Homo sapiens: one gene and its partner. The protein of the gene in region 1 interacts with the protein of each later gene in a biochemical or structural test. Each region holds a gene or a part of one and is shown on either strand. Other genes may lie near its edges.

Region 1 (3,681 bases):
CATGACACCGGACAGTCCTTAGCTCTGTTTTACCTTAAAACTTGAAGTTTTTTTTGAGACGGGAGCCTTGCTCTGTCGCCCAGGCTGGAGTGCAATGGCGCAATCTCGGCTCACTGCAACCTCCGCCTCCTGGGTTCAAGTGATTCTCCTGCCTCAGCCTCCCGAGTAGCTGGGATTACAGGCGCCTGCCACCATGCCTGGCTAATTTTTGTATTTTTTAGTAGAGATGAGGTTTCACCATGTTGGTCAGGCTGGTCTCGAACTCCTGACCTCAGGTGATCTGCCCTCCTCTGCCTCGGCCTCCCAAAGTGATGGGATTACAGGCGTGAGCCACCCGCACCCCGGCCCAACTTGAAGATTTAATTGTTAGCTTTCTGCTCTAAAATCATGTTACACCTTTCCTTCTACAACCAGAGGGGTTAAAAATTTAGTAACACTAGAAAAGATGGCATATTGAAAACTTGTTTCTTTGCTAAGAACAGTTATTTCTGAGGATATTAGAAAGAAAACAGTATTAACAGAGATGAGAAAAGGAAAGCCTTATGAAAGTCTGTGCCACTTCTAATTTTAATTCCAGAAAAAAATGCCTAGACTGTAAAGTTTGACATAAAAATAGTAATCAACATAAGTTAATAAAAATTGCTTAGCAGATACCTAATAATCATTAGGAAACAATATCCAAATATGAAGAAAACCATAATTCAGAAATAACTTTTACTTCTCAGTATCCTGGAGATACAACTTGTGTAGACCTAGTTACCAACCTCTGTATATCTGTAACAGTAAAAAATTTCAAACAGCCAAATGTCCCCAGAAGAGGACTGGTTAAACTGTATCTGTACAATGGCAGCAGTTTATAAACCACTGTTTGTACCTACCTTTTGTGTAAAAAAAGGGAGAGGGAGGAGGAGAGAACATACATTATATTTGTGTATATATGCACAGACTGTCACAAAAAACATAACACAAAAAACTTCTTACAGTTTGCCCTTTTCCATGTTTCTTTTTTTTAGAAGTGTACATATTACATAAAGTAAGTTTGAAAACAATGAGGACATTATAAAGCAAAAACTTATAGGCGAAAATATTATAAGGGCCTAGTACCCAGAATATATAAGGAACTCAGAACCCAACAACAAAATTTCAATGAACAAAGGACCTCAACAGACATTTCTTCAAAGAAGATACGCAGATGGCCAAAGACAACAAAAGATGCTCCACATCATTAGTAATCAGGGAAATGCAAATCAAAACCACAATGAGAGACCACACCCATGAGGATGGCTATAATTTTTAAAATGGCAAAATAAGTGTTGGTGAAGGTGTGGAGAAATTGGAACCCTCATACATCAATGGTGGAAGGTAAAACGGTACAGCTGCTGAGGGAAAGTTTGACAGTTCCTCAAAAAGTTAAATGTGCGATTTCAACATGACCCAGCAACTCCACTCCCAGGCATATACCCCAAATAATTGAAAACACGGACTCAAATACTTGTACACGAACATTCATAACAGCACTATGAACATTAGCCAAACAGTAGAAACAACTCAACTGGATGAATCGATAAACTTGTGGTATATATCTACAATGGCATACTTACTATAAAAAGTATACTTAGCTATAAAAAGGAATGAAGTAGTGATAACATGTTACAATGGATCAACCTCAACAACACATTAAAGCTAGACGAAAGAAGTAATACACAGTGTATGAGTCTCACATGAAATACCCGGATGTAAATCCAAAGAAACAGGAAGCAGATTGGTGGTTGCCAGGGACAAGGGCGGTGGGAGGAGAAAATGGAGAGTAACGGGACTTTACTTTTGGAGTGATGAGAATGTTTTGGAGCTAGATAGAAGTGGTGGTTGTACACCATTGTGGATGTACTACCACTTAATTGTTCACTTAAAAAGTTAATTTATGTGAATTGCATCTTAATTAAAAACAAGGATAACATTCCAACTCCTGGACATTATCCTTCCTTTCCATTTGATGTCAGGCCCGTGTTAGAATTCTCATCCGGTTTGGTCACTGCACTTAAGAAAGATGTGGAGAAATTAGGACGCACAGTTAAGAAGAAGGATAACACTGATTAAGGTAGTGCTTTTCTAGGTTTCCCCTAAACAATTTAACAGATGGATAGTGGCACCACTTACGAGATGGAAAAACCAGCGGAAGGAAGATTTGGGGGAGAAGTTAAGTTTGTCTTGGGCCTGTGTTTTGCAACCTGAGTGTAAAAGACATATGTTAAGTCTTCAGTGGCGAAACACTAAAACTAGAAATGGATCAGAATTTTATCTTTGGATGTGACTTCTCAAGGATGGTCTTGTCACTTCAGTGCCTGGTCAAATGACAAGATGGGCAATCTTTTCCTGAAGGTCCAAGCACCTGAACGTGGCAGGGTGACCCGATTCCGATTTGCTTAGAACAATCCTAGTTCATGCCTATTGTCCCTCATGTAATTAATATCACTCTCAAAATGTCTCATTTTGTGCAATAAATTCTGTAATCGTTGTTGCAGAAAATAAATGAAATTCATTAAGCCTTCCAATACAATGGCAGGTATAGCAGGCTTGAACACATCTTGGCAGTGAAGAAACATACAAATAATGCAGCTGCTTATTTTCAGATGTCTCGTCTCAGAACTTATTTCAGAAGTTAATAGTATAGGAGATAACTTTTTTATTCTTACAGCTTAAGCAAAGATTAACCATATCCCCTCCCCTTTCCTTCCAATTTATATGATCACAGAGTTTTAGAATTGCAAGGGGACCTGAGAAGGTATATAGTCTTATTGTCCTTTCAGTGAACACGTGTTTTATGACATCAGACACAGCTGGTCGTATGTCTCCATTAGTCATCTTGACAGTAACATCTCCAAATCCACAAATAGGCACTGTTCAATCTTATTGAAAAACAGGTTTTGTCCTGAAAATTAGGGATCCAGTAACTGAAGACATGTTGTTGTCTGAATTAGTTTTGCTGCCTTCCAACACAAGCTTGTAATATATTGTAACTTTAAGTCCAATAAAACATGGCTTCACACTACTAGCAAAAAAAACCCAACAAAATATAGAGATCCCATCCCCAAAAAAGAGACTTACAGAGTTTTTAAAAGCATGTTTATGTGACTGCACATAAATGTTTGTGTAAAAAGAGCATTATGACAGTTGATACCACAAAGATTACAGTAAGAAAAAGCACTTTATGACAATATTTCACAAATTCACAAGGATCACTTTAATATACAAAGCAACTGCTACTATTCTGAACACAAAGCAGCTATTATGTACATAGTGTTAATAAAATGCATTGTAACTCAGTACATTTTTTTCTTTACACATAAAGCACAAAAAGATTTAGATAAAAAAATTAAAACAGGGATGTTTCTAGAATGTAGGGAATTTTATTAGAAATGTATTTCCCTCATTATAGTTATTTATTTAGTATTCAACTCCAATAGAAACATCAGAGTTAAAAATCAATACCCTGTTTTGTGCTGACAGTTGTGGGGGAAGTCTTCTTTACCCCAACCCTCAAAAACCAAAAAGCCAAACACCTTTCTAGGAACTTCCCTGATTATTTTGCTTCTAAAAAGTTTCAAGTGATACATCTGGGTTAGAAATAATTCCTTTTGCAGGGAGTGGGGGAGTTACAACTGACATGTGGACAAATCAGTC
Region 2 (3,754 bases), on another chromosome or scaffold:
GCTGTTATCTTTTTCTGTATATGTCCAGTCTTCTCATGTAGAGTGTAAATTCGCCATAATCTTTGCGGCTGCTCAGCAGCCTGTGTGGATCTCTTCAGTAACAGTTAACACACGGTACTATAATAGTCCATTTACTTGTATTACAGTCTAATACAGATTAGACTGTAAGGTCCTTGAGGGCAGGCAGGCAGGCAGACACCATGTCCTTTGTTTATTTGCAGCCCCTGGCATATAGTAGGTACTTAATATTTGTTGAATGGATTCACTGAATGCATGAGAATCCAGGAGCAAGTCTAGTAAGTTTATTGTATTACCAGTGCCTTGCAGATGTTAGGTGGTTGATAAGTGGATGACAGTGACTGTAAAAGCTGAAGAATGCAGAGTATAGGATTGAACAGATCACTTAAACATACATTTCTTGAATGTATGTCTAAGAAAATGTCCCGCCCTCTAGTAGTAGGGGAGGAGGCCATATAAACCAGTAATTAAGATAATACTGCCTTGGGAGGCTGAGGCGGGTGGATCACGAGGTCAAGAGATGGAGACCATCCTGGACAACCTGGTGAAACCCCATCTCTACTAAAAATACAAAAAATTAGCTGGGCATGGTGGCACGTACCTGTAGTCCCAGCTACTCGGGAGGCTGAGGCAGGAGGTTCTCTTGAACCCAGGAGGCGGAGGTTGCAGTGAGCCGAGATCATGCCATTGCACGCCAGCCTGACAACAGAGCAAGACTCCCATCTCCAAAAAAAAAAAAAAAAAAAAAAAAAAAAAGATAATACTGCCTTAAGTATAACAGTAAAGGGATATTCAAGTATAAAGTTAGCAAAGAATGGGTTAGGACTTTTAGCTTTCAAATAATCAAATCTTCAACAACAATAACAAAAAGGATATTATTGGAAGGAGATTGGGTTATCTTACCCACTTATTTAGTAAGTATTTTATTTCCTCTTACATACTGGGTGCGATTTTAGATGCTTGGATGATAGGACATGTATGGTCTGTCCACTGGAAGAACTGGGTTGCATCAGGAACCATTGGAAGCAGAAACTTAGCATTGTCTGTATTTTGTCCACCTTGAATCTCTGCTTGTCACTATGTGATGGCTTTATTCTTCCCCACTACTGTGCCACTTTTCCCACATGGGAAAGATCATGCTGTTGATAGACTGCAAGTTTTACATCCTACAGCTTCCACTACTGAAAAGACACCGCCGCCTTCTCAGCTTCAGTTATAAAGATCTCAGGGAAGGACTTTTTTGGCCTGCCTTTGGTGAGGTATCCACTTTTGGATCATTCACCTAAAGCCAGGGGATGGGATCATGTTTTTGTAACATGGCAGCAATTTCTGTAAACATGGATAGGGATAAAACTAAACTCTAAGAAGAGGAGGAGTTGCTGGGAAGACATTTACTTAGATGCCTGTTATTAGGAGAGAGAGCCTAACATTGAGGAGAAGGTCGAGGAAGTTTATGTATTGTGGTGTAACAAATTATTCCAAACCTTAGTGGCTTAAACAACATGATTTGTGTGGGTCAGGAATTTAGGAGTGGCTTAGCTTATTGGTTCTTTTTTTTAATCCTAAGTGAATTAACACAGGAAGCTTCTTGATTCTAACTCAGGGACCCTCATGAAGTTGAAGTCAAGGTGTTGGCCAGGACTGCAGTCACCTGAAGACTTGTCTGGGTCTAGTGATTCCCCTTCCGAGATGGCTTACTCACATGTTGGCAGGTTCCTTGCCATGTGGGCCTCTCCATAGCGTGGCTTGAGCATTCTCATGACAGGCAGCTGGTTTCCCCAAAAACAAGTGATCTGAGAGACAGCGAGGTGGAACCTACCATGCCATGTCTTTTGTTGTTGTTTTGTTTTTTTGGAGACGGAATCTATCCAGGCTGGAGTGCAGTGGTGCGATCATGGCTCACTATAATTTCAAACTCCTAGGCTCAAGAGATCCTCCTGCCTCAGCCTCCTGAGTAACTCTGGGACTACGGGCATGCACCACCACACCTGGCTAATTTATTATTTTTTTGTAGAGACAGGATCTCATTATGCTCACACTGGTCTCCAACTCCTGGGCTCAAGAGATCATCCCACCTGGGCCTCCCAAAGTACTGAGATTACGGGTGTGAGCCAACCTGCCCGGCAAAATTAATCCATTTGTAGCATGCATCAGTACTTCATTTTGTTGTTGTTGTTGATAAATTGTGTTCCATTGTATAGATATACCAAGTTTTGTTTATGCATTCACCACTTGTTTGAAATTTGGGTTGTTTCCACCTTTTGGCTATTGTAAATAATGCTGCTTTGCACATTTGTGGACAAGTTTTTGTGTGGACCTATGTTTATTTCTCTTGGGTATGTAACAGCAGTAAAACTGCTGGATCACTTGTTAAAACAAAGCTAAACAAAGTCTGGGTTTACCTTTGTAAGAAACTGCCAAACTGTTGTCCAGAGTGGCTGTATCATTTTATATTCCCATCAGCAATTTATGAGGCCTCCAGTTCCTTCACAGCCTAACCAACATTGTCTGTCTTTTTGCTTATCATAGGGAGTGTGAAGTGATTTTCCATTTCCCTAATGCCTAATGACAAGCATCTTTTCATGTGCTTATTGGCCATTTGTATACCTTTGGAGAAATTTGATTCAGATCCTTTGCCCAGTTTAAAATTGGCTAGTTTGTCTTTTTTTATTATTGAGATATGAGAGTTCTTTATGTATTTTAGGTACATGTCTCTTATCAGGAATATGGATTTGCATATATTTTCCTCCATAAATGAGCTGTCTTTTCACTTTTTTGATGGTTTCCTTAGGAGCACAAAAGTCTTTAATTAAAAAAAAATTTTTTTTTTTAAATAATAGAGATGGGTTCCTGCTATGTTGCCCAGGCTGGTCTCGAACTCCTGGGCTTAAGTGATTCTCCCTCCTCGGCCTCCCAAAGTGTTGGGATTGTAGGTGTGAGCCACTGTGCCTGGCCTAAAAGTCTTTAATTTTTTTTTTTTTTTTTTCTGAGACAGAGTCTTGCTGTGTTGCCCAGGTGGAATGCAGTGGCATGATCTTGCCTCACTGCAACCTCTGCCTCCTGGGTTCCAGCAATTCTCATGCTTCAGCCCCCTGAGTAGCTAGGATTACAGGCGAGTGCCACCATGCCTGGCTAATTTTTGTATTTTCAATAGAGACGAGGTTTCACCATGTTGGCCAGGCTGATCTTGAACTCCTGTCCTCAAGGGATCCACCTGCCTCAGCCTCCCAAAGTGTTGGGATTACAGGTGTGAGCCACCGCTCCTGGCCCTAAAAGTCTTTAATGTTGATGAAACCTTTTTTTTTTCTTTTTCATTTTATTCTTGTGTCTAAGAAATCATTGACTAATTCAAGATTATGAAGATTGATGTCTCTGTTTTCTTCTAAGAGTTTATGGCTTTAGCTGTTACATTTAGATCATTGATCCATTTTAAGGTAATTGCTGGATATCATGTGAGGTAGTGATTCAGACTCATTCTTCTGCATGTAAATATCCAATTGTTCCAGCACCATTAGCTGAAAAGACTATTTTTTTCTCCATTTTAATGTCTTGGCACCCTTATTGAAAATCAGTTGACTATAGATGTATGGGTTTATTTATTTTATACTCTCAGTTCTCTTCCAGTGATCTATATGTCTCTCCTTATAGCAGTACCATGCTGTCTTGACTACTACAGTTTTTTAGTAAGTTTTGAAATTGAGAAGTGTGAGTCTTATTCTTCAACATTGTTTTGGTT

Evidence for each region. Proteins that work in one complex are often made in the same cells at the same time.
Region 2: of the proteins of CREB1 (region 1) and RPS6KA5, one has a biochemical effect on the other in vitro, tested with the Homo sapiens proteins (3 studies listed by BioGRID, with this or other methods).

What each region holds. Positions count from the first base shown.
Region 1 is NC_000002.12:207,602,857-207,606,537, reverse strand, and holds the end of CREB1 (cyclic AMP-responsive element-binding protein 1), read right to left. Parts: 3' UTR 550-3,681; downstream 1-549.
Region 2 is NC_000014.9:91,053,888-91,057,641, reverse strand, and holds part of RPS6KA5 (ribosomal protein S6 kinase alpha-5), read left to right. Parts: intron 1-3,754. UniProt on the Homo sapiens protein: Serine/threonine-protein kinase that is required for the mitogen or stress-induced phosphorylation of the transcription factors CREB1 and ATF1 and for the regulation of the transcription factors RELA, STAT3 and ETV1/ER81, and that contributes to gene activation by histone phosphorylation and functions in the regulation of inflammatory genes.